7 linked regions of the Homo sapiens genome follow. The protein of the gene in region 1 interacts with the protein of each later gene in a biochemical or structural test. Each region holds a gene or a part of one and is shown in the gene's direction. Other genes may lie near its edges.

The links.
Region 2: the proteins of TLK1 (region 1) and ZMYM5 form a complex in vitro, tested with the Homo sapiens proteins (one large-scale study listed by BioGRID).
Region 3: the proteins of TLK1 (region 1) and PATL1 form a complex in vitro, tested with the Homo sapiens proteins (one large-scale study listed by BioGRID).
Region 4: the proteins of TLK1 (region 1) and CORO2A form a complex in vitro, tested with the Homo sapiens proteins (one large-scale study listed by BioGRID).
Region 5: the proteins of TLK1 (region 1) and CFAP20 form a complex in vitro, tested with the Homo sapiens proteins (one large-scale study listed by BioGRID).
Region 6: the proteins of TLK1 (region 1) and CCNB3 form a complex in vitro, tested with the Homo sapiens proteins (one large-scale study listed by BioGRID).
Region 7: the proteins of TLK1 (region 1) and SULT1C4 form a complex in vitro, tested with the Homo sapiens proteins (one large-scale study listed by BioGRID).

Annotation. Positions count from the first base shown.
Region 1 is NC_000002.12:171,007,098-171,011,020, reverse strand, and holds part of TLK1 (serine/threonine-protein kinase tousled-like 1), read left to right. Parts: intron 1-3,923. UniProt on the Homo sapiens protein: Rapidly and transiently inhibited by phosphorylation following the generation of DNA double-stranded breaks during S-phase. This is cell cycle checkpoint and ATM-pathway dependent and appears to regulate processes involved in chromatin assembly.
Region 2 is NC_000013.11:19,860,850-19,864,899, reverse strand, and holds the start of ZMYM5 (zinc finger MYM-type protein 5), read left to right. Parts: upstream 1-1,250; 5' UTR 1,251-1,450; intron 1,451-1,530; exon of another isoform or gene 1,531-2,073; coding exon of another isoform or gene 2,074-2,076; intron 2,077-2,433; coding exon of another isoform or gene 2,434-2,501; intron 2,502-4,050. UniProt on the Homo sapiens protein: Functions as a transcriptional regulator.
Region 3 is NC_000011.10:59,641,373-59,645,295, reverse strand, and holds part of PATL1 (protein PAT1 homolog 1), read left to right. Parts: intron 1-2,260; coding exon 2,261-2,416; intron 2,417-3,923. UniProt on the Homo sapiens protein: RNA-binding protein involved in deadenylation-dependent decapping of mRNAs, leading to the degradation of mRNAs. Acts as a scaffold protein that connects deadenylation and decapping machinery.
Region 4 is NC_000009.12:98,136,910-98,140,832, reverse strand, and holds part of CORO2A (coronin-2A), read left to right. Parts: intron 1-3,144; coding exon 3,145-3,261; intron 3,262-3,923.
Region 5 is NC_000016.10:58,116,062-58,119,629, reverse strand, and holds part of CFAP20 (cilia- and flagella-associated protein 20), read left to right. Parts: intron 1-2,678; coding exon 2,679-2,758; intron 2,759-3,477; coding exon 3,478-3,568. UniProt on the Homo sapiens protein: Cilium- and flagellum-specific protein that plays a role in axonemal structure organization and motility. Microtubule inner protein (MIP) part of the dynein-decorated doublet microtubules (DMTs) in cilia axoneme, which is required for motile cilia beating.
Region 6 is NC_000023.11:50,203,030-50,207,700, forward strand, and holds the start of CCNB3 (G2/mitotic-specific cyclin-B3), read left to right. Parts: upstream 1-1,735; 5' UTR 1,736-1,921; intron 1,922-4,671. UniProt on the Homo sapiens protein: Cyclins are positive regulatory subunits of the cyclin-dependent kinases (CDKs), and thereby play an essential role in the control of the cell cycle, notably via their destruction during cell division.
Region 7 is NC_000002.12:108,376,365-108,380,847, forward strand, and holds the start of SULT1C4 (sulfotransferase 1C4), read left to right. Parts: upstream 1-1,589; 5' UTR 1,590-1,973; coding exon 1,974-2,142; intron 2,143-4,483. UniProt on the Homo sapiens protein: Sulfotransferase that utilizes 3'-phospho-5'-adenylyl sulfate (PAPS) as sulfonate donor to catalyze the sulfate conjugation of phenolic compounds.

The DNA of each region.
Region 1 (3,923 bases):
AAACAAAAAAAAGAAGTACTTGTCTTTTGTTTATTGATTATATGTCCTCATTATAAAAAAGGGTTTGTTGTGGCTTCTGTTGTCTTATTTCCAGAATCCAAAGACTGTCCTTGCCACCTGCACAGTCCCTGTGATATTTGATACCTAGTCACCATTAACCAGTCCAATACAAAGAGTAACAGCTATTTAAATCAAGATAGGCAGGTAGCCATTTAATACAGTACACTTATAGAAAGATTGTACCCCTTAATTAAAAAATGTCTGAAGTATTAACATGTCCTGAATTTATCCAAATTTCTACCTATGTCAAGTCCGTTTCTCAAATGCATATGTATAAATGTAGCATTTTTACTCCCCATGTTCACTATTTTATGCCTTTCTTTTTTTTTTTTTTTGTACTTTATGTTGTATCTTTTAGCCTAACCTTTAAATATTGGATTCCTAAGGTCCCTTTTATCATTCTGTATTCTCCCTTAAGAAGGTTTTTATCCTCTCTCATTCACTGGGTTATCTATTTGGTGTCACCCCCAGGTAATATCTAGCTCACACTTTCTTCCTGAGTTCAATACCTCAAAGTATGTTTGTATACATGACTTACCTCATGTGGGTGCTTCATAGGTACTGGAAACTCACATTTGAAATAGAAGTTATCTTCCTCTCCTCTAAAATGTCTTTTAACACTGCTTCTGACTTCCCTGACCTCAGTATATAACATTGCCATTCATCTGCCTGGTCCCTCAAGTGAAAAAACACAAAAACCATCGTATGCTCTTCCTTTCCCTTTGTTCCCCTCCCCTCACATATTATAAGCCCCTAGTTCCTGCTATTATTAATGTCATTAAGTTCTCCTAAATTCAGCCATGACCCTTCCCTTCTGTCTCTTAGCTCAAGGCTTCTTCCGGAACCTCATAGCTGATTGTCTTCTTTTGGGCATTGCTTTTCTCAAGTCATTTTGTACACTGCAACTAGAGTGAACTTTTTATAAAAGGCAGCCTGATCATCTGTCCTACTTGAAAGCCCCAGTAGCTTCCCATTTGCTCTTGGGATGAAGTCCTAGTGAAGGGTTATATGCTCATCTTTAGTTCCTCTAAACAGCTTCCCTGACCCTCTGCATCTTCTCTGATAGATTTGGTGTGCCTTTTTATAAGCTCCTTTGTGCTTCATTACGTACTGGCATAGTTGGTTAAAAGCTTTGGTTCTGAAGCCAGACAGCTAGGTTTAAATCCTGACTGCTATTTACTAATTTTATTAATTTGGGCTTCTTATTTAAATCCCTGTCTGACTCATTGGCTCCTTCTGAGAATAATAACAATACCTACATTATAGGGTTGTTGCAGTGATTAACTGAGTTATCACATGTAAATCATATAGAACATAGGTGCTGAGATAAGCTGATAAGATTATTAGAAATCCTGCTTGTTGGCCATGGCTCACACCTGTAATCCTAGCACTTGGTGGGGCCAAGGCAGGCAGATTGCCTGAACTCAGGAGTTCAAGACCAGTCTGGGCAACATGGCGAACCCGTTTCTACTAAAAATACAAGAAAAAAATTAGCTAGGCATGATGGCACATGCCTGTAGTTCCAGCTACTCGGAGGCTGAGGCATGATAATCGCTTGAACCTTGGTGGTGGGAGGTTGCAGTGAGCCAAGATTGTGCTACTGCACTCCACCCTGGGGGACAGAGGGAGACATTTTCTCTCAAAAAAAAAAAAAAAAAAAAAAAAAAAAGGAAAAGAAATCCTGACTGTTGCATGGGACAAAGACTACACCCTTCTCGTTTCTGCTTCTGACTTGGAAAAATTATGGGATTTGAGTTAAGAGAACTTCAGTTCTGGTATCAGTTCAACCATGCACTATTTTTTGTTAACTTAGATAAGCATTACACGTCAGGGTCCTCACCTTCCTCATTCATCAAAAGTGATCTTTGGGCTCTCTTCCAATTCCTGTTTCTCTGATTCTAATAATAGTTTATCCTTAAGCACTTAATGGGTGAAGTAGGCTTACCATAAGGTAGAAAAGATTATCATGATAGTTCAGCTGGGATCTAAAAGTCACTAAAAGTGCAGTTAGCATTAGCGTGGCCTAAAAGTTGTTGAGCTTATGAACTTACCATGAGCCTTCATAACAACCCTCTGCTACTGCCTGGTTGTATTTTAAATAACTATTTTACCCTCATAGGTGAGGACTTTTGTAGAAGAGGCTTACATAGAGATTAGAAAGTGCAGATTGGGGCCCAGTGACTTGAACTTTCTATACTGACCTAAATACTAGTGACATCATTCTCTAAGCCCTTTAAAGCCCTTTCATGATTGCCAGTTCTGTTGGGAAACAACTAGACAAAAAGCAGATTGTAAGTCAAGAAGTAAAGAGTTGTATTTTATACCAGGATGGGAGATGTTGAGTCAGTTGCTGAGTGATTGCCATATTAACCTTATGGAAAGGTATACTTCTACTCACCTGAAATTTTGGGAGGAAGATGTGTTACATATAATTTATTATAATCAGTATACTCTGATAATAACTTTTTATTGCTTGCTTAGTTTTTTCTTCAATTATCCTTTACTATGATTGCCTTGAATTCTTTATAGATTTGTTCCGCCTTGTCCCTTATATAAACTTACTTTATTTTTATTCTTCTCAGTTTCTTTACACTTAACCCTTAATAATAATATGTAATTAGCTAATGTTTCTTGGCCGTACCATGTATTATTCTAAACACCTCATATGTTTTACCCCCATTTAATCCTCTCAATAACCCTAACTTTTGGGGCTCAGAGAGGGTATTAGCACAGAGTCACTCAGCTAATAAGCTAATCTGATTGCAAACAGAATATTCTTAACAACTGTGTGCTATATTATATCTGATCTCATACTTTTATAGTTTTGTACCAAAGTAGTCACTTTACTGCTTATCCCTTCCTGCTTATTTTTAGGTTAAATTGATGGGAGGAAATGGGGACCTTCTTTCTAATAAATACGTAAGCTTTTAAGTGAAAGGGGCACCTTTGTGTGTAAATCACAATGGAACCAAAATTATTAAATGTCTCTTTAATGGTATTCATTGCTTTTTAAAAAAACATAAGTCATGTAAAGCTGTTAAAATACTGATCATTCTGTGTTTTTAATTTAAGAAATAGGCTGGTGATTTGAACAAATCAAGTATAAATTCTTTTTGAGACAACCAGGGAAAATTGAAGACAGGTTAGGTATTAGATGAGATGAAGGAATTATTACTGATGTAGTTAGGTGTGATAATGGTATGTGGTTATTTTTATTTAAATACTGATGTGTTTACTGGGAGAAATAATGTATTTGTTTTAATAATACTCTGGTTGGGAAGGGTGGGATGCAAGGGTACTAGGGAATAGATGAAACAAGAATGGCAACATATTGGTAATTTTTGAAACTGGATGGTAGGGGCATAAGGGCACATTATAGTAGTCTACTTGTGTATATGTTTGAACAGTTTTATAATAACGAGTTTTTTTCAACAGTTGGAAAAATAACTGTTAGGAACTTTTTAATTTTTCTAAAAAGTGAGAAAGAAATAGGGGGTTGCTAGGAAAAGATAGATTTAAAAGGTTTTATCCAACCTACAAAAAAAGTGGTACAGTCATCTGTTTTCCTGGCTGCTTACTACTAGTATAGAGGAATAAGTCCATATTAAAAACAAATAATAGCTTTATTGTTTTATTTTTATTCAGTATATTGGCATTTATAAAATTTAATGTGAAAATTCACATTAAGGTTTTCTCTGATTTATTACCATGGAATTTCTGTCTTCTGATAATAAAAGTGTCATTGAGCTATATATAGTCTTAGCAGAGAAGATCATTAATAATTGTAGGGTTTGTCCTAATTCCATATTATTGCAAAAATTATCACCAAAATAAAAAACATCTCTTCAGCTATTCAATTGGTC
Region 2 (4,050 bases), on another chromosome or scaffold:
GGAAATGGTTCAGCACCATGACATCCGCCGAAGACGTAGGTGTAGACGAGGAACAAAAGAGAAGACCCCTCGTGGAGGTGGCCTGTGGGGCCCGCCCTCACCGGGCGCCATCTGTCCCTGATTCTGCTCCCCGCAGGGGCCGCAGCGGGTGCGCCCCGCGATAGAGCGGGCTGTGGAGGGAGCCTCCATGGAGTCTCCATCAACCATTCCGGACCAGGAGACGGTGGCAGGCAGTAAAAAGGCCTAGGCAGGGCCAGCGCCCCGGGCTGCTAGCACAGGACGGCGGCGCCCAGGGACGCCCCAGGGCAGGCCTCAGCCCCTCCAACCCGCGAGAGCCCAGCTCCAAGGGAGCCTGCAGCTCCCTCCATCTTGGTTGATGGAGGCGGGGAGCTGCGTCTGGGTGTCTCCACCGTCGCGCCCGACCAGTACTGCCCCGCGGACGCAGACGCCGGCAGCTGGGGCTGTTCCCTTGTCCGAATGGCAGAGCCCAGTCGGGGCTTCCGGGACAAGTCCTGGCCCCACGGGGTTTGGTTTTGAGGGGTCCCAAGTTCCCACAGTTGTCCCGACAAAATGGAGGACGTCGTCTCCTCCTGCTGCAGCCATGGCGGGAGGTGGGGGACTATTCCCCACGGGGCGCGGCGAGGGTGGAAGGGCCTCCACTGACCGCAGCGCACTCAAGACTCCAGTTCAACCGCGGCCCCGAAAGCTCACTTGGCCCCGCTCCAGCACCTCCCCGGCCTCGCCCCTCTTGGGGGCCTTCAAGGAACTGGACAGGGAGGGCGCTGGGGCATCCAGGCCGCCGCTCTCCTCGAGCAGAGGCGTTGGGAGCCGCTGCCGCAGCTTGGGCCCCCGGGCTCGGGCGAGGGCAGGCAGCCCCGCCGGAGTCTCCCGGGCTGTGTAGGTCCCGGAGAGCCCCGGGCCCCGAGGGGCCGAAGCGGGCCGCTACGACGGGCGGCGAATCTCGGGCTCCTGACCCTGGCGGACCCGGTAGCTGGGGGCGGGAGACCGGCGGGGAGACAACCCGACCGGGAGTTGAGGGCTGGCAGGCGGGAGTGGAACTGCAGGGCCGCGGGTGTGGCCCGCACCTGACGGACAGCTCTTCGGCCACCCCACCGAGGGGGCGCCCTGAAGGACGGCCGTCGGAGCCAATGGGCGTGCCCAAGGCGCCCAGGCTCGTCTCCCTCGCCAGCCAACGAGCGCACGGAGGGTGGGGCCTCCTCGGGCTCTGCTGCGCCGTCCCCTGCTTCTCCGCCTCCTCACCAGCGCGAAAAGCCGGGACTGGACCTCGCGGAGTTGTGCTTGTCGCCGAAGCGGGGTGGGCTTGTTCGTTCCGCGCAGCCGCAGCCAGAACCGGGTGACGCTTATCCCCGCTGTCTTTCCAGTCCAGGGCCGCTGAGAGTGGGGGTGGCTGGGAGCAGCGCAGCCTCCGGAGGAGGAGGCGGAGGCCGAGGTGAGTGGGGAGGCGGAGATGGGTGAGAGCAGCCTCCGGAGGCTCCCACCGACCCGGGATTAATACCCCGCGGCGCGGCCGCCGTCGCCGTTGCCGCTTCGGGGCCTCGAGGGCAGCTCGGGGCTGCCCTCCTGTCACCGGCGCTTTTGCGTCCGGCCTGAGGGGCTGGGAGAGTGCGAGCGAGGCCGGGAGGGTTGGGTGAGGCGGTCGCCAGCGGCGGAGGTCGCGGGGCCGGCGGGGAGGCGGGGTGGCGGGGCGGGTTGCCGGCCGCCCGGGGAGGTCGCGGGGCATTTTTCTTTCTCTCCTGCCGCATAGTGGCGGGGGGCGGGTTGGGCGAGGGAGGGGCGCCCCGGCCGGGTCTTCGCTGTCAGGACCGCGCTGCCACCCTGCCGCCGGAGCCGAGGTCCCCAGGTTTTTCGGGCGAGGGCTTCTGCCTCTGCCCCGCTGGGTCCCCTCCTTCGCTCATCTTTTCCCAGGCGCTGCGCGGCTTTTACTCTTTGCTGCTGATCTGGGCGAGTTTAATGGCGGATCTGGGGCCCTGTCGTCGACTGCTGGGGCCCCAGGGCAACTTCTTGAGGCAACTGTGGGCCCAGAGGTGATGCGCGCCGCCCGTTACCTCTGAAATGGTGCTTGGAGTGACAGAGATGACGCTGGGTGGGCAAATTTAGGAGGGAATACAAATCCCTTGCTGGCGTCGAGACGACGTTTACCCTTCCCTCTCCCGTCCTGGGAGCAGGCCTCGGATCCCCGAGCCCACTGCATCCCCAGTACTGCAGTTGGACGAAGCACTTTTAGCTTTGTCTCGTCGTTGCGGTTCCTATAGTTCTTTTTTTTCAACTTAGTTTCTCGGTAACATTAGGGTGGGGGAGGGTAGCAGAGCCCAGGAACTCCTTGGCCTCTTACCCCTTTGCCACCTCACGGTGTTGAGTTGGTTGTGCATCCAGATTGGTTGTACCGAAATTGGTTTTCAATTCTCATTCTAGGACCAGGAATCACCTTCAAGCCTATGTCGTGAGGCTTTGGCAGAAATTAAGAAGGAAATATCTCCATTGTGAGTTGTTTTTTTTTTTTTACCCCGCTTTGCTGTCTAATATAATTAGTGCAGTAGTAGGGTGTTCTTCCTGAGGGATTTGCCTTTGTGTTATCTTGAAGGCCTTGGCCTTCAAGCTAATTGCTTGGGTGCCCCTGTCCCCAGAGCCAAGCCATGGTAGTCCCTGGGAAGGCACGGGGAGTGCTGACATTTATACCACTGGAACTCTCTCAAGTTCCAGAACAAGATTTAAAGTTAGCTCTCTTTTAAGTGCCTTGAATTTAACAATTTTTTCTTTTCCAGTAGATTGGAAAAACTTTTTTACTGTTGGATTAAAAAGAAACACTACTGAATAATCTGTTGTTTTGACGTTGATATTTGCCTTGTATTTGAGGAAGACTGTTATTTATGTACCCTGACAGTCCTCCAGCTAGCATCACACGAGGAGATAACATAAACTAGTTGTCAAACTATTCCTAATTCTAAGATTGACCACCGAATCTGAGTGGCCTGATCTCTCTCTGTTAGGAAGTTAATGTTTGTTTTTGTTTTTTCGGGTTTTTTTTTTTTGCTACTAGACAGTGATCTATGTGTTCATTTTGGTACAGTACAAATGCCCTTTCTCTGTCAGCTATTCACTTAATGCTTTTAACACCAATCCTTGTGTGAATAATTTCATTAGGAGTGACAAAATGATTTTTTTTTCTTTAACAAGCTTTACTTCTATTTTTATTATCTGGGATTCAGTTCTTGCCAATTTTGTCCTTTCAACCCTGATCAAACAGTTTTCCATTGCTCATCAAAAACAAACTTGTGATTAGCTTATCTCCCATAGTAGTATTCCTGCCTTCCTTTTACCCTAGTTGCTTTCTACTAACTTATTTGCTCTTATTTTCTTACATTTCACAGCATATCTCTTTAATTAGTTAAACTTAGGACTGTGGCAGGATGTGGTAGGTAGGTAAAGTGGCTGGGCACAGTGGCTCATGCCTGTCATCCAACCACTTTGGGAGGCTGAGGTGGGTGGATAGCTTGAGAGCTTGAGCCCAGGAGTTCCAGTGTGGACAACATGGCAAAACTCTTTCTCTACAAAAAATACAAAAATTAGCTGAGCATGGTGGCACATGCCTGTAGTCCCAGCTACTCAGAAAGCTGAGGTGGGAGGATCGCTTGAGTTCAGGAGGTTGAAGCTGCAGTGAGCAGTGATCACACCACTATACTCCAGCCTGGGCAACAAAGAGAGAGTCTGTCTCAAAAAAAATGGGTAAAGTGGCTCTGGGCACTGTGACTCACTCCTGTAATCCCAGCACTCTGAGAGGCCAAGCTGGGAGGATTGTTTGAGCCCAGGGGGTTGAGTCTGCAGTGAACTGTGTTTGTGCCATAGCATTCCAGGCTGGGCGACAGAGCCATACCCTGTCTTAAGAAAAAAAAAAAAGCCTGGTCCATAAGGTTTGAGACACACACACACACACACACACACACACGTGCGCATATACATGCATATAGTTAGTGGGAGATACAATTCCCCCCCCCCCACCTGAGATATAATCCTTATCCTCTTTATTTTTTC
Region 3 (3,923 bases), on another chromosome or scaffold:
CCCAACAGCTCATTGAGAACGGGCCATGATGACAATGGCGGTTTTGTGGAATAGAAAGGGGGGAAAGGTGGGGAAAAGATTGAGAAATCGGATGGTTGCCGTGTCTGTGTAGAAAGAGGTAGACATGGGAGACTTTTCATTTTGTTCTGTACTAAGAAAAATTCTTCTGCCTTGGGATCCTGTTGATCTGTGACCTTACCCCCAACCCTGTGCTCTCTGAAACATGTGCTGTATCCACTCAGGGTTGAATGGATTAAAAAAAAAAAAAAAAGTGGATGGGGAACTTTACAGTGGTTGGAGCAGCCTGGCAACACCTGAACCCATTAATGAACTCTTAACACCTCTAAGAGTGGGACAACCAAGCACTGTGCTTTTTTTTTTTTTTTAAAAAAAAAAAAAAAAAAAGGAAACGAAGTCTCCCTATGTTGTCCAGGCTTGTCTCGAGCTCCTGGGCTCAAGCAGTTTTCCCATCTCTGCTTCCTAAAATGCAGGGATTACAGGCATGAGCCACCATACCTAGCTCTTCTTGGCATAATGCAATGGAAAATACACAGTTCTATCCATGACGTTTTCTCACATGTCCCTCCCACATCCTACTGAACCTGAATCAAATAAACCTGTTATTCTAACTATCTGTTTAGGAGGGAAACAGAGGATAGCAGAACCTGCTAAGTGACACTGCCAACATGCAGTTTGCCAAATTCAAACTATAGAACAAATGACCCAGTTTCTTTAACAGATAAATAACAAGAGAAAAGGGCCAGTGGCAGAAGACCTGTTAGAGAGATTTTAAAAACCTTACCAGGCAAATGCAATGTGTGGATCTTGTTTGAACCATAATTAGCACAATAATGGTTCTAATACAAAGTTCAGCTGCTAAAAGATATTTTTAAAGGCATTTGAGGGAATTTGAATTTGAAACAGATACTAGATGATATTTTAAAATTCTTTCCTGAGAAATGGTCTATGAAGAAAAATTATTGTTTATTTTGTTAGGTATGATATTGTGAGAGATTTTGTTAGAAATACAAACTGATGTATTTTGGGATGAAATGATATGATACAGAAGGAACATAGATTTAATAAGATTGGCAAAATGTTGATAATTTGGTTGATGTTGAAATTGGGTGGTGAGTACATGAATGTCATTATGCTGTTGTTTGTATTTTCATGTATGTTCTAAAATGACCATAATAAAAGCTTTTTTAATTTATAGTAGACCACAAAAAATATTTTATTCCCCATTTGCAGTTGCCATTTAAAGTAAAACCAGCCATCACTTTATACCATGTGCATTGATTGTCTGGAAGCACTCTTGATTTCCTTTGTTGTGTTATAACCTAGTTATTTATATTAATAGTTCTTTATTTTAACTTTCCAGTTGGCTACATGACAAAAAGAAATAAATGACTAGAAGGCTGGAATTCAACAGCCTTGGGTTCTGGCTCTAGCTGTGGCTATGTAACTCCAAACACTGAGTTTCTGATCACTTTATAGATTCTCTAAAAATCTATAAAAATTGGCTAATTATTTCTTTTCTTCCTCATTGAGCTTTTATAAAAATAAAAGAAAATACATTAAATCTGAAAACACTTCTTTTGAGACAGGGTGGGTCTCACCCTGTCACCCAAGCCGGAATGTGGTTGTGCAATCATAGTTCAATGTAACCTTGAACTCTTAGACTCAAGCAAACCTACCACCTCAGCCTATTGAGTAGCTGGGGACTACAGGTGAAACTTTTTTATTTGTTGTAGAGATGAGGTCTCACTACGTTGTCCAGACTAGTCTTGAACTCCTGGCCTGAAGTGATCTTCTGCTTGGCCTTTAACCTATCTTGGAGTGCTTCTCACAGTATATTGAAATGGCCAATTAACCCATATCTTCTCCGCTATACTTTAGATCCCTGAGGTTCTGTGTCCTTTTGCCATTTGTTTTTAGCCCATGGTGTAGTGTAAGCATTTAAATATTTATGGAATTAGTTAAAATATTGATGTTTTAGCATAACTCTTGGTATGTATTTGGGAGTGATTTTTTTTTACACCTTTGGTTCACACAAGTCATGGTGTTTCCAATGCAAATTGAGATGAAAAAGTTCTCAGTAGATAGCTTAGAATTCATTATTAAGACTCTAGTCATATCTGCCAGACTTGTGCCTTAAGTGGTTGAATATACAAATGAACATCCTTCCATCCATGCCCCTGGTGGGGGGTAACTGAAGTAACACGTGCCAGGATATAATGCTTTTATTTGTTTTTTGTAGGTGCTGCCATGCTTACTGAGTCCCTTCTCTCTCCTTCTCTATCATCTTCCATCAGTGAGTATCACCAGCCTTTTGCGACAGCTAATGAACCTACCTCAAAGTGCAGCTACACCAGCACTCTCCAATCCTCACCTCACTGCTGTGCTCCAGAACAAGGTGATCTTGCCCTTTTAACTCCTTGAACTTTGTGAAATGTCTTAATTTGCGTTATAGATTAAAATAATGGCTGCTGTATCTCTAGCAACTTGGGAAAAAGGCTTCTTTCAGTCAAGAGTTACATTAAGCTCCTAGTAACCGGCTAGAAATAACAGTGTTTTCAACAAAATGGGATTTTATGTGTCTAGTGTGAAATAAATTTGATTTAGTAGCTCGACAGAGTCATCAGGGATCCAGGCTTTTTCACTTTTTTTCCTCTGCCATTCTTACCAGTGGCTTCCATGTTCATTATTCCTCATGGTCCAAGATGGCTGTGGAATTCATGATTCAGCTTTACATCAAGAAGGACAGGTGGATGTGGAGGGCAAAAAGATGTGGACCAGCTGTCCATCTTCCTTATTGAGACCTTTTCCAGGAGTTCTAACCAGAAACTTCTACTTACTGTTAATAGCCAGGACATTGTCACATGGCCACACCTAAGTGCAGGGAAGGCTGGAAAATATCTTTTAGTTTATGCCATTGTCATGACACATAAGAGTTCTGATAATGGGTAGGAAGGCATATTAGGCAATTAGCAGTCTCTGTCATAACACTATGAATAGTAGAATCATCCATTTCATATTTTATTTGCATCAAGTTTAAAGATTCAGAGATTCCTAGGGGAAACATAATATGAAATAAAGAATATGAATTTTTAGTCCTTCCCTGCTACTGTCTAGCTTTGTGACCTTGGACAGATGATATCACATTGCTGAATCAGTTTCCTGGTCTATAAGATGGAGGTGATGATGTAGACTTCATAGAGTTGTCCTGGTACTTAAATGAGATAACAGTTGTAAGTGGTTCGATATAATGCCTGGTACATAGTAGTTACTCATTAAGGGCCATTCTATGTACAGTAGAGATGAAAAAGTGGTCTCAAGGCCTCTTGCTCCTTTGCACCAGAAAACCTACCAAAGCATGACTCTAAAGGTCAGTGTATCAGAGGAAGAAGAGGTGACAGTGCCTCTGGGGTTCTGGAGTGATCCGGAATGTGCCTTTCTGTTATTTGGTCTCTTAGTTTTAATTTTAGTAAAGGCAGTAGTATTTTTTTTCTGAGAATAACATGAAAAGGGATTTTTTTTTTTTAAATCAGGGTCTTCTCTGTCACCCAGGCCAGAGTGCAGTGGCAAGATCTCGGCTCACTGCAACCTCTGCCTCCTGGGCTCAAGCCATCCTCCCACCTCAGCCTCCCAAGTAGATGGGACTACAGGCACATGCCACCACGCACAACTAATTTGTGTATTTTTTGTAGAGGTGGGGTTTCGCCATGTTGTCCAGGCTGGTCTCAAACTCCTGAGCTCAAGCTATCAGCCTGCCTCGACCTCCCAAAGTGTTGGGATTACAGGTGTGAGCTACTGCAACCGGCCATGAAGGGAAATTTTGTGGAAAAGTGAGTGAGTCTAGAAAGTTGGAATGGAATCCCAAAGTACTGCCAGCCTTCCTTTTATGATCCATTTATAGGTAT
Region 4 (3,923 bases), on another chromosome or scaffold:
AGGGGAGAGACCTGGATTAGCCAGAGTATTTCCAGAGGGAGGCACAGGACCACCTCCTCTGTTTGCAGAGCTACTAAAATGCATGCATAGGCCAGGCACGGTGGCCCATGCCTGTAATCCCTAACTTTAGGAGGGCAAGTTGGGAAGATTGTTTGAGCCCAGGAGTTCAAGACCAGCCTGGGCAACATAGCAAGACCCCATCTCTACAAATAATTTTAAAAATTAGCTGAGCTTGGTGACACATGCCTGTAGTTCTTAGCCTGGAACTTGGGAGGGTGAGGTGGGAAGATTGTCTTACCCCGAGTTCGAGGCTACAGTGAATCATGATTGCACCACTGCACTCCAGCCTGGACAACAGAGTGAGACCCTGTCTCTTAAAAAAAAAAAAAACAAGTACAGTGGTCTCTACACAGATGGGGAGGTGATGGAAGAAGAGAAGGTTGGGTGTTCCCTGAGTCCACCCTGTTCTTGAAAGTCCCTCTAGAAAAAATCCCAAGACTATTGATTCTGCAAAGTCAAGGACTATGTTGAGTGTTCACCTTGCAATCAGCCCCTCCAACAGCACCTGTCCCCTGGGCACCTCGGGAATATTTGTGGGATGGATGGATGTTGGCCAGTTTTCTTCTCAGCTGTCTCTTTCACTTAGATATAAAAATGGCTGGGGGAGCATTCTGGTGGGTGGCTCAAGAACCTGGAACTAGATGGTGGATGTGGGAGGTCGAGGGCCTGGGTCCTGGTCCCTGTTCTGCCAGGGCCATGCAATGTGATGTGCAAAATGAGCAGATTGGTCACTGCCAGTCCAAGGTTCTGTGACTGAACTGGTGTGGTTTCTCTATGACCCCAAGAAATCCAAGTCTCTTGGTGGAGTTGGAAATAGCTTCAGGGCTGTGTGGCATGGGCTGGGGGACCTGTATGTCCCTCCCAGCACCTATACAGGAATTCTCATTAGGAAAGGGGAAAATGAGGGAAATGCCCTTTCTATGTAATTGAGGTAGAATTCACATACCAGAAAATTCACCGTGTTTTGTTTTTTGTTTGAGACAGGGTCCCATTCTGTTGCCCAGGCTGGAGTGCAGTGGCACAATCATAGCTGACTGCAGCCTCGACCTCCCAGGCTCAAGCAATCCTCCCACCTCAGCCTCCCAAGTAGCTGGAACTACAGGTGTGCGACACCATGCCTGGCTATTTATTTATTTATTTATTTTTGAGACGGAGTCTCACTCTATTGCCCAGGCTGGAACGCAGTGGCACAATCTCAGCTCACCGCAACCTCCACCTCCTGGGTTCGAGTGATTCTCCTGCCTCAGTCTCCCAAGTAGCTTGGATTACAGGCATGTGCCACCACGCCCGGCTAATTTTGTATTTTTAGTAGAGGTGGGGTTTCACCATATTGACCAGGCTGGTCTCAAACTCCTGACATCAGGTGATCCACCCATCTTGGCCTCCCAAAGTGCTGGGATTACAGCCGTGAGCCACCATGCCAGGCCTAATTTTTTGATTTTTTGTAGAGACGGGGTTTTGTCCTGTTGCCATGTTGGAAAATTCACCGTTTTAAGGTGTATAGTTCAGTGGATCTTAGTATATTCACAAGGTTGTGAATATACTGTGAATAAACTGTCACCACCACCTAATTTCAAAATCATTTTGTCACTCCAAAAAGACACCCCTCACTCATTAGCAGTCACCCCCTATTGCCCCTTCTCCCAAGCCTGAGGCAACCAGAATCTTGCCTTCTGTCTCCATGAATGTATCGTTCTGCATTTTTCTTTCTTTTTTTTTTTTTTTTTGAGACAGAATCTTGCTCTGTCGCCAGGCTGTAGTGCAGTGGCATGATCTTGGCTCACTGCAACCTCTGCCTCCTGGGTTCAAGCGATTCTACTGCCTCAGCCTCCCGAGTAGCTGGGACTACAGGCGTGCACCACCACGCCGGGCTAATTTTTTGTATTTTAGTAGAGACAGGGTTTCACCATGTTGGCCAGGATGGTCTCGATCTCCTGACCTCGTGATCCACCCGCCTCGGCCCCCCAAAGTGCTGGGATTACAGTCGTGAGCCACCGCGCCCAGCCCGTTCTGCATTTTTCATATGCATTACTTAGGGTTCCAGATACCAGGTACCAGGGGGATGCATTAATGTGCTCAGGCAATGAAACCACATCTGGAACATCATCTAAGTGGAATCACACAACGTGTGGCCTTTTGTGCCTGGCCTCTTCTTCTAGTGTTTTCTAGGTTAATCCATGCTGTAGCAGGGACCAGTACTTCATTCCTCTTTTTAGGGACAGTAGTATTCTGCTGCATGAATATACTGCATTTTGTATGTCCATTCTTCACTTGATGGGCATTTGGGTTGTTTCCACTTTCTGATATTATGAAGAATATTGTTGTGAACATTGGTGAACCAGTTTCTTTTTTTTTTTTTTTGAGACATAGTTTCACTCTTGTCACCCAGGCTGGAGTGCAATGGCGCAATCAGAGCTCACTGCAACCTCCACCTCCCAGGTTCAAGTGTTCTACCTCAGCCTCCTGAGTAGCTGGGATTACAGGTGCATGCTACCACGCCCGGCTAATTTTTGTATTTTTAGTAGAGACAGGGTTTCACCATGTTGGCCAGGCTGGTCTCGAACTCCTGACCTCAGGTGATCCACCCACCTTGGCCTCCCAAAGTGCTGGGATTAGGTGAAACAGTTTCTTGCGGACTTATCTTTTCATTTTCCATGGAGATAGACCTAGGAGTGGAATTGCTGGGTCATGTGGGAACCGGTTAACCTTTTGAGGAACTGCCAGACTATTTTCCAAAAGAGCTGCACCATTTTACATGCCTACCAGCAGTGTGTGAGGGGAAATGCCCTTTTATTGAACATCTGCCATGTGCTAGGCACTGTGCCATACCTCCTCTCCCATGATCCTCACACCAACCTGTGAAATACCTGTGATTGCTCCCTTTTACTGAGGAGGACACCAGAGCTCAGAGAAGTGAAGTAACTCCCCCAGGATCCCACAGGGAATAAGAAGTAAGGCCTAGATTCACACCCAGCTCTGTCCCTTATGTTTTCCTGTTGACTGGTTGCTAACTGACTATGTGACTGTCCAGATGCTAATGTGGAATCCACCTCCTCCCCAACCCTCCTGGGCACTGTCTTGCAGACAGGGAAGTTGGACCCCCACTACCCAAAAGTCTGCGGGCACAGAGGCAACGTTTTGGATGTCAAGTGGAACCCTTTTGATGATTTTGAGATCGCCTCCTGTTCTGAAGATGCCACAGTGAGTGTCAGCCCCTGAGGGGCTTCCCCTTCCTGAAGAGTGGGATTGGGGTGGTTGGGGTGGAATGGTACCTGTTCTTGGCTCTGGTGCCCCTGACTCCATCGCGGAGGTGAGGTCACTGTGTGGGGAGGTGTTAAGTTAAGGTAGAGGAGGAGACATTCTTGGTGCTGTAGGACTAGCGGCACCACCCCTCCTCTCTATGGGCCTTAGTTCCCCCCCATATAAAATGGGCATAATAGTTCCACCCAGCTAATAAAGCCCAGTGAAAATGTATATTCCGATGGGAAAACCCATCCTTCGGGGAGCTATAAAAGGCTATGAGGGGCATTTTTATGGTGATCAGAAAAGATGTTCCACTTAATCCCATAGTGAGGAAGCGAGCTATAAAAGGCTGTGAGGGCCTTGGATGAATGTGGACACTAAAACCATTCCAGCAGCTTCAGTCTCACTCACTTTTTTGAGCCCGTGTTCTGTACCAGGGTTATCATCCCTGCCCCAACAATGTTCAGTGTTACTTATTTACAATTCATTTTGTACCCACTTCTAAAATATGGTGGTATGGCTTAAGACAAGAACCACAGATATGCCAGGTTCAGTGGCTCACACCTGTAATCTCAGCACTTTGGGAGACTGAGGTGGGAGAATCACTTGAGGCCAGGAGT
Region 5 (3,568 bases), on another chromosome or scaffold:
TGACGTTTTGTGTCTTGAGAGCCTAAGAAATGCTCCATTGGCAGGGATTGGGGTCCCGTCTAGCCCAGTATTCTGTCTCTGACAATGGGCACCCATTTGTGGAAGCATTCTTCATGCTGGCGGCCCTGTGGGCTTTGTGATATGCCCCAGATCTCTGGCTTCCTATAATAGTCCACGGGGGATGTGTTATCCAGGAATTTTTAAAACCCTCCTTGAACCTATTCATATGTGCCAGCTCTTAGGGTGACAGATTCCAGAAGTCAGCAAATATTTGAACGCTTAGTTTATGGCTAGCACTGTGCTAAGCATTGTCGAAGATAGAAATGATGCTTCATAACTGGTCTTGGCTCTTGCTTGAGCTTATTCTTTTTTAAGGAGACAAGACTTGGTTGCAGTTGTGGAAAAGGTGGGCAGTGACATCAGATGTCACCTTTAGAACACCAGGCAGACCATGAGTGGATCAGACTCACAGTGACAGAGCTCACAGAGACTAATGTCTAAAAACAGAAACATATTATTAATAATTTATGTTGAAAAATAAAACTACCAGACCCAACACTGATTTATCCCCATATGCAAGTCTAATAGCCAAATCGTAATCAGCAGGCTGATGAGTGAACAAGAGGAGCTTTAGTCAGTGTGATTGAGTCATTGATTATGGCAGCCTAACACAGCCCTTTCCACAAAGAAAGACCGTATGTTTGTCTTTCTGATGTCTCCTGTTCTAAACCTAGTTGATCTTTTTCATATGTTATTCCATTCAGCCCTAATAGTCCAGCCTTGTTTTTTTGTTTGTTTGTTCATTTTTGAGACAGGATCTCACTCTGTCGCCCAGGCTTGAGTACAGTGGCACAATCACGGCTCACTGCAGCCTCGACCTCCCAGGCTCAGGTTATCCTCCCACCTCAGCCTCCTGAGGAACTGAGACGATAGGCACGTGCCACTACACCTGGCTAATTTTTTGTAGAGATGGGGTTTCATCATGTTGTCCAGACTGGTCTTGAACTCCTGAGCTCAAGCAGTTCTCTCGCCTCGGCCTCCCAAAGTGCTGGGATTACAAGCGTGAACCACCATGCCTGACCCCAGCCATGTTTTTTTGGTTTTGTTTTTTTTTTTTCGTTTTTTGTTTTGTTTTTTTTGAGATAGGGTCTTGCTCTGTCACCTACTCCTCTAGGCTGGAGTGCAGTGGCACAAACACAGCTCACTGCAGCCTGGACCTCCTGAGCTCAAGTGATCCTCCCACCTTAGCCTCCCAAGTAGTTGGGACTATAGGCACACTACAGGTGCACGCCACCACACCTGGCTAATTTTTTGTAGAAACAATGTCTTACTATGTTGCCCAAGCTGATCTTGAACTCCTGAGCTCAAGCTATCCTCCTGCCTTGGCCTCCCAAAGTGCTGGGATTACAGGCATGAGCCACTGTGCCTGGCCCCAGCCCTGTTTTGAAAGTGCCTTTGCATATCTCTGTTCTGTCCATATTAGTTGCTTAAAAGTTTAATGCTTGAAGATAATTGTTCTTTCCTAAATATTTTGAGAGGAGGAATCTGTATTGAATATTGATTCCTCCCCATCATCTACCTCCTACATATGCAGCAAACAATACAAAACAATGTAGGATGAGGTGCTAAATTATGTCGTCTAGACAACATGAGCCAGAAAAACAAATCAGAGAAAAGAGAGGTCAGTGTGGGCTGAAAATGCTAAAGAAGGCATCTGTGTGTGGCACAGATGGGAATTGAATTCCTGCTTTAAAAAGTAGAAAATTAGGCAAAAGCAGATAGGGAAGCATGAAGCAGGATAACTCCAGGGGAGGAATGCTTTCACTTTTTGTTGCTGCCCTCCTCAGTAACACTCAGCTTTTCTTTGGCTTTTCTGGCCAAAGAAATATACAAGGCAGGACGGGCGCAGTGGCCCATGCCTGTAATTCCAGCACTTTGGGAGGCCAAGGCAGGTGGATCACAAGGTCAGGAGTTCGAGACCAGCCTGGCCAACATGGTGAAACCCCGTCTCTACTAAAGATACAAAAAAAAAAATCGGCTGGGCATGGTGCTGCACGCTTATAATCCCAGCTACTCAGGAGGCTGAGGCAAGAGAATCGCTTGAACCTGGAAGGCAGAGGTTGCGGTGAGCCAAGATCGCGCCATTGCACTCCAGCCTGGGCGACAGGGCGAGACTCCGTCTCAGAAAAAAGAAAAAAGAAAGAGAAAGAAAGAAATCTACGAGGCAGTATGAGGCAGTGGAAAGGCTGCTGAATCCTTAGTCTCCTACTTAGGGTTTGGCATTTGCAGTTCCGGGGTGCCAATGTCCACATTTGTAAAATGAAAACAGTATCACCTGCCTTGTTGTTTTTATTGTGTGAGGCTTAAGTGAGAAGGGGATGTGTGTGATATTCCTGGTGCATAGTAGGCATTCAGTAGATATTAGCTGAATCTAAATTGAGTTGATGTATTTGGGGAGAAGTTTCCCCAGATTTAGGGATTGCCAAGTTACCTGGGATTCCCTTGGTGGTTGGTGTGACCCTGTCTAGAGGTAATAGCTTGGCTTACTTACATATAAGCTTCAGTGTGCTGTGTCACAAATTTCTTTGTACGCCTCTTGGGCTACCGTGGTTTTCTTTAAATAGTCCTATTCAGCCTTGTCAGATATTTCAGTACTAATCGAATTTTCTTTCTTGTAGGTACGGAATGGCCACATCAAAAGAATCACTGATAATGACATCCAGTCCCTGGTGCTAGAGATTGAAGGGACAAATGTAAGGTAGGTTGCCACCTCTGTTCTCCCAGAGACATCATATACTAGGGAGGCAGTACGTCATAGAGGTTAATAGCACAGACTGCGGAGTCAGAGTGCCGGATGTGAGTCTATCTCTGCCACTTAGAGCTTACCATGGGCAAGTTACTGAATCCCCCAGACCTTAGCATACTCATCTGTACAATGGGCAGAATAATAGTACATTTTCCTTATAGGGTTATTGCGAGGAGTAAATAAATGAATATATATAAAACACGTAAAGCCTTGCTTAGCACATAGTAAGCACGATGTCAGTATTAGCTATATTATTAACCAAAGTGTGTGTTGGGGTGGGGAGTGGGCAGTGTTGTACAGCTCATCCAGTGGGTGGACAGTGTGGTTTTCAGTGCCATAGAGGTCTCAGTTTTGGTTTTCTGTCATTCGATGGCTCCCCTGGACCAGAATTGAGGTCTTCTCTCACTGGAGGAGCTTCTAAGATCCACTGTCTGGCTTTGTTTTTCAGATATTTTATTGCTGCTGTCTAGTCCTGTGTTAAGCTTTTGTTTCTGGGTCCAGCGTTTGTTAAAGCAGCCGCTGACTTAGGGCTGAGGGATTCACTGGGTGGCGTGTCTGAATCTTTTAGATCTGCTTTCCAGTGTATCCTCTTGGACCGTGTGTTATTGTTGTGCATACCACAAAGGAAGAGAGTCCAGGAGTGTGTTTATTAGTATTTCCTCTCTCTACAGCACCACATATATCACATGCCCTGCAGACCCCAAGAAGACGCTGGGAATTAAACTTCCTTTCCTTGTCATGATTATCAAAAACCTGAAGAAG
Region 6 (4,671 bases), on another chromosome or scaffold:
GGTGTGTGAATAGTCTGCACTTAGGTTTGCCTTTAATAGCCAAATATTGAGATATTAAACACAAAAGCCTTGGTCATCATTTTTTTTCTAAGCACCATCATCTATTTTGTAACCTTGTTTATTCTACCCAAACTTCTTCTCTTTCACACAAACTTGTGAATAAGAGTGCAAATCAATACTTTAAATACACTCTCGGTTTGCATTTGGCTAGAAAAAACTATGAAGATAATAAAAATGGGACCTGCGTTTATAATATAATTATCATGAATAATGGCAAAAGGAAATTAAATGAAGTGAACCATCAGCCTTCATGAAATCACTGTCTGTCTGGTAGTCTTGCTGGGTGTCTTCCAGCCTCAGATTTAGCCTACCTTTTATGTGATGACACAATGACCATTTAGAAAATGGGCAGTGATGCCAATGATTATCAGACATCATTTACTGTGGACCAATATAATTGGGAACACCACTTCTTTTTCTCCTGATTTGGTTTTCCTGCCATGAGAGTACACAATGACATTTAGAGCAGCTTCATGCAACCATACTAAAGTGAAAAATTAGTCATTTTGAACATCTTGGCAGTGGAACTGTATAATTACTTCTGTCAAGTGTTTGTGTTTTGTCTGCATTGTACATATTTTTTCTTTCCTATGAGTGATTGGAGGAGTGGAGGGGGAAAATAAAGGACTTTTAAAGTCTATAAACATTATCATAAAAAAATTTCAGGGGGCAACTGCTAAAGATAAGTGGAGTCTTAGGAATGTTAGGGGTTCTTTTATAGGCAGGGGCTTAATTAGGCAGCTAAAGTTCTGTTCCATAACCTTGCGGTAGAAAATGACTTATGGCTAATTTTGAGGGGTGGGCTTGGCTTGGCAGTGGCTATTTCTGGTCAGGCTCTTCCCTTTTATAATTATGAAATTTCCTTCCCCTGATTTCCTAGAACATTTGCTTATTGTCAGGATAATTCATCTGACATTTACTAAATCTGGCCTTGTAGAGTTAATTACCTTTTCCTATTCCTAGATTACCTACATTGCAAGCCTAGAAGGTTATCTATCTCTTTTTCATTGCATCCACCACAATACTGGGCACACAGGTGGGCTCAAGACACAAGGTTTTGGAATTTTTAGGGCAGAAAACATAATTCAGAAATCACAGCGTCATGGGATCTGTAAAAATGACCAAAAAACTTGGTTAGCTATCTGAGTGGGCAGGCTTCTTTCCCAGAGCAGTAATTGTCACACTTTGGCGTGCATCAGAATCACCTGGAGGGCTTCAGTTTCTCATTCTACGGGTCTGGAGTGGGGACTGAGAATTTGCCTGGTACTGTGTATTACATGCATTATCTCAATTCACGCACAGCCTTATGAAATGCCTACCACTTTAATTATAAATGACTCGCTGGAGCGCAGAGGCCACGTGACTGGTGGGGGTGCTTGGCAGCACTGGCCACTTCCATCGTCTTGGGGGTGGGGGTGGCGGGGCGCGCGCGTGTGTGTGTGTGGTGATTAGCATGCCTTTTATTTCTTTCAGGGTCTGGAGATAGAAGAGAAATTCCCTGAGAAAAAGAAAAGTAGAAAGGTATTTACTCTGATCTTCTGGCCCCATCTGGTGGTTTTAAGTCTGACTAAAAAAAAAAAAAAAAAAAGCGCTGATTCGTGATCTCCCCCTGCTGGTGAGAATGGTGGGGTCAATCCGGCCGCCTCTCGTACCAGTTGTTCTGAGGTGCATTTCTGTGGAAGCATTTCCGTCATTCTGAGACAGTTGGGCTGAGGCGGTTGGTCGCCTCTCTCTCTCTCTCTCTCTGTTCCTCATCTACATTTTGATTGGTTTATTTTTGTATTGTTTTCTTTCAGTTTCCGATAGGTGGAGAACATTCTGCTAATAGCTTTTCTTCCAGTCCATTTGTGGCTTGTTAAAGGTACAACATGTATTGTCAGTCGTGACGAGAGCTTTTTGCCTTATATATTGATTATATATTATAAATATAGAAGTATATCCTGTGTCAGGCTGGAGATGTGGGAGGAAAACTGGCTGAGGGAACTAGCCTTTAATTAGTTTATTTCCTCCCTGTCAAACCAACAAACTTTTCTGGAACATCTGAAAAAATAACCTTTAAAAAGTACTTCAGGCTGACCGTGGTGGCTCACGCCTGTAATCCCAGCACTTTGGGAGGCCGGGGCGGGCAGATCACCTGAGCTCAGGAATTCGAGACCAGCTTGACCACCATGGCGAAACCCCGTCTCTACTAAAAAGACAAAAATTAGCCGGGCGTGGTAGCGCGCGCCTGTAGTCCCAGCTACTCGGGAGGCTGAGGCGGAAGAATCGCTTGAAACTGGGAGGCAGAGTTGCAGTGAGCCAAGATGGTGCCACTGCACTCCATCCTGGGTGACAGAGCAAGACTCTGTCTCAAAAGAAAAAAAAAACTTAAATATACAGTTACTTGGTGACAAAATGTTTATCCTGCCCTGCAGATAGTGTATCAGTGAATGAATGTATTAAACATTACAGCTGGGTGCAGTGGCTGCGGCAGGAGGATGGCTTGAACTGGGAGGCAAAGGTTGCAGTGAGCCAAGATGGCGCCACTGCACTCCAGCCTGGGCGACAGAGTAAGACTCTTGTCTCAAAAGAAAAAGAATTAAATAGCCAGGCGCAGTGGCTCACGCCTGTAATCCCAGCACTTTGGGAGGCTGAGGCAGGCGGATCACGAGGTCAAGAGATCGAGACCATCCTGGCCAACATGGTGAAACCCCGTCTCTATTAACAATACAAAAATTAGCTGGGCATGGTGGCATGCGTCTGTAGCTACTTGGGAGGCTAAGGCAGGAGAATCACTTGAGTCCAGGAGGCAGAGGTTGTAGTGAGACGAGATCGTGCCACTGCACTCCAGCCTGAACGACAGAGTGAGACTCTTGTCTCAAAAGAAAAAAAAATTAAATAGCTGGGCACGGTAGCTCACGCCTGTAGTGCCAGCACTTTGGGAGGCTGAGGCAGGCGGATCACGAGATCAAAAGATCGAGACCATCCTGGCCAACAAGGTGAAACCCCGTCTCTACTAAAAATGCAAAAACTAGCGGGACATGGTGGCATGCGTCTATAGCTACTTGGGAGGCTGAGGCAGGAAAATCACTTGAGCCCGGGAGACAGAGGTTGCAGTGAGCCGGGATGGCGCCACTGCACTCCAGCCTGGCGACAGAGCGAGATTCCATCTCAAAATAAATAAATAAATAAATAAATAAAATATACTATTACTTGGTAACAGCTGGGCGCTGCGGCTCACTCCTGTAATACCAGCACCTTCGGAGGCTGAGGCGGGAAGAAAGCTTGAGGGCAGGACTTTGAGACCAGCCTGGGCAACATAGCAAAACTTCCGTCTCTACCAAAAAATAAATGAAATAAAATAAAATTAGCAGTGTGTTGTGGTGCCCGCCTGTAGTCCCAGTTACTCGGGAGGCTGAGGTGGGAGGATCACTTGAGCCTGGGAGTGGGAGGTTGCAGTGAGCCGAGATCATGCCACTGCACTCCAGCCAGGACGACAGAGCAAGACTGTCTCAAAAGAAAAAATAATAAAAATGAAATATAGTATTACTTTATGACAGCTGGGCACGGTGGCTCACTCTTGTAATTCCAGCACTTTGAGAGGCTGAGGTGGGAGTATTGCTTGAAGGCAAGAGTCTGAGTTTGAGACCAGCCTGGGCAACAGAGCAAAACCTCCATTTCTACCAAAAGAAAAAAAAAATTAGCTGGGTGTGGTGGCGCGTGCCTGTAGTCCCAGTTACTCCGGAGGCTGAGGTGGGAGGATCGCTTGAGCATGGGAGGTTGATGCTGTAATGAGGAGTGATCTCGCCAACTGCACTCCAGCCTCCTGTGCCTCTTGCTCTCAAGTCAGGATGATGAATCGGGGTAATGACTTCATGTGGTCACTAGGAGGTCGCAGCTGTTGGAAAACGTATTCCCATGCAGTAGGAGAACACCCCGTAAAAAAGCCGTCTTGAGAAGGTGTTCCTCCAATTAAAAGGGAAATTGGTGATTTCTCTTGACAGAATCACTCCCCATCCTAAAAACTGCATTTTTGTGTATGTCGTATTTATTGATACATTTCCTTAATATTTCCATTATGAAGATATGTATAGGTTCAAGGAAGGCAGTAACTGTCTCTGTGTACAACCTAGCAGTGGCTCATGTGCTTAGACACTCAGTAACTCTTGGTGATGTTGAGATGATTATGACAATAGTGATGGTGTTGATTATAAGAGTGGACTCAATCATTTGTGTCTTCTGAAATTCTCAACAGTTTTACATTCACCTAGTGAATTTATAAATTCACATATCACATTCTGCCTTGTGGTGTATTTGTTTCATTATGAGCTTTATCTTTCCAAAAACAGGACTTCTTGAAGAGAATGACTGTGTTTTGCCCATTTTCACTTACCCTGCTAAGGGTAGCACAGGTTCATATATATTAGCAAATGCCTAATGATATTTACATAATTGAAAATAAGTGGTAATGGTTCTTCAAGAATTGCTAGCCCCAGGACCACATAGAAGTGCTTGGTCAAGGCCAAAAACATTGGGTCATCCTGATCCAAACTGCCTGGATTATTGTAATAACTGGCTAACTGATTCCACTGAATCTATCCTTGCCACTCTTCAATGTAACAGTTTTTAGGA
Region 7 (4,483 bases), about 63 Mb from region 1:
CCCCCATCTCCCAGCCCTCCCCCTCTAGCACACAACGCACTGGAGAAAACTGCTAAGGCATTGCTGAATATCTACCACTCTACTCTGATGGCACACAGGGCCAAAAAGATTATAGAATAAAATCTAACTGAAAAATTATAGGTGATTTTTATAAGTCTGTTTAAATGCATATGCATCCCAGGCATTCCACCTGGCAGTCTCTGTCTCAAGGGCCCATCCACCTCACCATGGTCTGGAGGGAGGGGATGAGGAATAGGGAAAGCCAAAGAATTGATCTTTTCTGAGTTTGCATCCAGAACATGGGCCACAGAGAAATGGTGAACAAAGTCACCCATTATTATTAACAGCTATGATTTATTCAACATTTCCCTGTTGCCAAGCATTAAATAAGCTGTTTTATCTCCCCACAACCATGAGGTAGATAATGTTAAGATCCCCAATTCAGACCTGAGGAAAAGCGTGATATGAAACAGAGAAAGATTCTGTAACCTGCCATTGCCCACAGCTACTGGGACTTGGCACAGGGTTCAAATACAGGCAGCCTGACTTCTCTCTGAAGGATGTCAAGCCACAGCCACCATACTCACCTAGTCCCCACATAATGATGGCCCAAGGAACTCGCTTCCTCAATTTTTGCTTAGTTTTACTCATTCATTCTTTCGAGAAATAGAAGAATGCCAGACACTAGGCATACAGCTATCAAACAGTGAGAAAACAACAGGCCCCATTTCATGTGCCTTAGAGTGTAGTGAAGGAGACAGAAAATGCCAACAAGTAAACACGCAAAAACTAACTGTCAATGGTTGCTCTAAAGGAACACAAAGTGCCATGAGCAAGGAAATAGGAGGGACCTACTTGAGATGACATAGAAAGTCAAAGAAGGCTTCTCCAGAAAGGGGGCATCAAAGCTGGGACACGAAGAAAGAGAATCAGACAGCCAGACACACAAGAGCCGACAAGATCTCCAGAAGGAGTGCTGCCATGGGGAGCAAGTGTGGCATGGCCCTGGGGTGCAGGCCAGGCCGGGGGCAGGGACTGAAGCAAGTTGTGAAATTTCTGATTATCAGGGGCAGAATGGATTCCTAAGGCAGCCACTGTCTTCTGTTAACTCTGGAGTTTTCTGCATCCCTTTTGCTTTAAATGAGGCATACATGTTTTCATAGCTGTGATGAAACCCCTACAATTCTCCAGTTTAGCATTATTTATTTTACTCTTAAAAAATAACAAAGCTGACCCTGGCAGATGTTTGTACTGGGAGATTCAGATCCATCCAGGCCCCCACTGTTAATAGCCCACGGGAAAGTCCCTGCAGTCTCTCAGGGAAGTCATTCTGTGTAGAATCTGTAATTTCACAGGCAAGTCCTGCAACTTTTTAATTGTTTAAAATTCCCAGAAGGAATAATTACTGAAATTATCTATGAAGGGTTTAATGGACACAGACATGAGAGCTATAAACAATGTGATACTATGTCCTGTTAACTCACAGAGAACGGAAGGGCTGGAACGGGACCCAGCCAGCAGGGTTTGTGACCGCCTCTGCTGTGACGTCACAGCCTGGTGAGGAGGGGGCTGCAGTTCCTCAGGAAACTGCCAGTGGACAAATTCATAAACAAGAGCTCCAGTTCCCTGGAACCTGAGTCGGGAGACCTGCAGCTCACTTTCTCCCTGTTTGCTGGCCAGCAGGGTTTGTGGCCGCCTCTGCTGTGACGCCACAGCCTGGTGAGGAGGGGGCTGCAGTTCCTCAGGAAACTGCCAGTGGACAAAGTCATAAACAAGAGTTCCAGTTCCCTGGAACCTGAGTCGGGAGGCCTGCAACTCACTTTCTCCCTGTTTGCTGGCCCAGACAGGCCTGTGCTAGAGGGCTGGATAGTGTGGTAGTGTGGTGGATAGAGTGCTGCCTCTATCCACAACGCAGCCATATGCTGACTGAAGATAACTTTGTGTCTGGAAGAGCCCTCTGATTTCTTACACTAATGGCCTTACACGACATGGAGGATTTTACATTTGATGGAACAAAGCGCTTAAGTGTCAACTACGTGAAGGGAATTCTTCAACCGACAGACACCTGTGACATCTGGGATAAGATCTGGAACTTCCAAGCCAAGCCTGATGACCTGCTTATTTCTACCTATCCTAAAGCAGGTAGGTGGAAGGGCTTGCAGGGGAAGGGGAAGAGGAGAGTTAGGAAGGTAAGTGGAAGTATGCATTAGTCATGAAATAAAGAAGTTGATCTGGAAAACTCTGGACAGAGTGATATGGCTAAGGAAAGTTACTAGTGGAAACTGAAGCTATACCGAAACATACTAAAATGACATACAAATTTTTAGAATTCAATCTTCCTATGATACTATGATGTACTTCCTTTTTTTTTTTTTTTCACTTTCCCAGGAGAGAGTGAAAACAGTTAAGAGCAAAAGGGTAGACTTGTTTATTTATTCATTCCCAATCTAGGCCCTTATTGTAGATCTTGTAAAAAGCTGCTTTGAGTGTGTGAGCTAGAAAGGTGATCCTGAGTCTGATTTGGGAAAGAAATAGGGGAGCTTTGGTTCTGCAATGCTGATATCACCTCAGCAGCCCTCCCATCTCAGGGTCTGAGAACCATCCTTCTGATTTCCACCTTCCTTTGTGGTAAGTTTTGAACCAACTGCCTTATCTCAACAATCAGTTTAACAAAGTTGTCTGTAAAAGTAGGACTAGCTTAAGCCGAGCCACCACGTCATAAAAATTGGGTGATGATGAGGTGGAAATAGTTCTCTATAAATATTTTTGCATATCTACATATCTACTAGAAATACATTACTGGGTCCACACACAAATTGTATATACATTTGCTCTTTGCAAAATCAAGCTGTCAAAAACTCTTGTTATACACACACAAACACACACACATCAAAAAATCTAAACCTCAGTATTTTCTGAGACTGTTCAAAATCCTCTTTTGTTCTTATCTCTCAAGATCCTGACAGAAGATTCTGCAGGCACATGGAGGCCTTGGTCTCTTCTTTGTCCATCTGTTTCATTTTGGTCCTGATTTCCCAATCTTACTCATCAGGAGCCCATTCAGGATCAAATTTTTCTGAATGTAAATTTCTAAAAGTAGCCACTGGTGAGGATCACATCTCATCATCTTAATTTCATTGACAATTCCACTTGATTATCAATTCAATACATAAATAATCTTTTCTCTATCTGCCAAACGCAAGTACAAAGATATGGTTCATTTAGGTTTTTCATGGCATTAATGAGGTTTAAGCAATTCAAAAAGCACACTAAGAAAATTAAATACTTGCCATCTAAAGTAATATTTAATCATAACTAAAACCATATACATTAATGAAGGCTATTTTATTAGAAGGAAGAAGAAACAAGCATAGATGGCAAAAATAGTTCACCCTAAATTTTTAAAAGAATAATACTCTGAATGACACAAGAAAAAAATACATCATAGAATCACTGGCCTCTAGAGAATAAATTGAGAAGTCATTCCACTCACCCCGGAGCCTCTAGCAACATTTGAATCTGCCCTCATGTTGGCTCATGTCTATAAATTCATTCAATTCATTCATTATAGACATTCAGTGTTATGGCTATAAATTCCCATAAAACTAGTACAAATGGCTGGACTATTCTTTGCATGGATAGCTAAAGATATCTTGGCCCTTTGTCCTGTAATAAAAGTTGCTGCCAGAAAATACAGGAGACCAACTACTATAAAATATAAAATGTAATTTAATTTTTTTCTAACCTATGCCCTTATTCTAGGCCTTTAAAAGCACTAAATTGAGAATATGGGAAAAGGAATCTATAGAGTTTCGGCCAGATAATACAGGAAAGATCAACCTAGATCAGGATTCAGAAAGCCATCCTGGCTAGGCATGGTGGCTCACACCTGTAATCCCATCACTTTGGGAGGCCAAGACAGGGGGATCTTTTGAGGCTAGAAGATTGAGACCAGCCTGGGCAACATAGGGAGACTCCTATGTACAAAAAAAAAATAAAAATTAGCCAGGCATGGTGGTGTGCACTCACAGTCCTAGCTATTTGGGAGGTTGAAGCAAGAGGACCATTGAGCCCAGGAGTTGGAGGCTGCACTGAGCTAGGATCCCACCACTGTACTCCAGCCTGGGCAACAGAGCAAGACCCTGTCTCTGGAAAAATAAAAAATAAAAAAAGCCATCCTAAAATAACTCAACATCCTCCTAACCTGGATTTTGCCAGAACATCTGGTGCAACAGATCTTCATCAAAGGGTGAAGATTATGTTGATAGCACAATATCACTGTATCAGTCAGGATCAGTGCAAGACACAGACAGACTGAAGCTGGGGGATACCATTCTACCTATGGCCACAGTGGCAGTGGTTGGGTCTAGGGCACTGGGCCATGGAACGTGGAATGGTCTCTGCAAAATTTCTATCTGCTGGGGCTACTATCAGCAGCCACCACCTCAGGAAGGATGACTTCTATCTCCCCACTGCCTTCCAA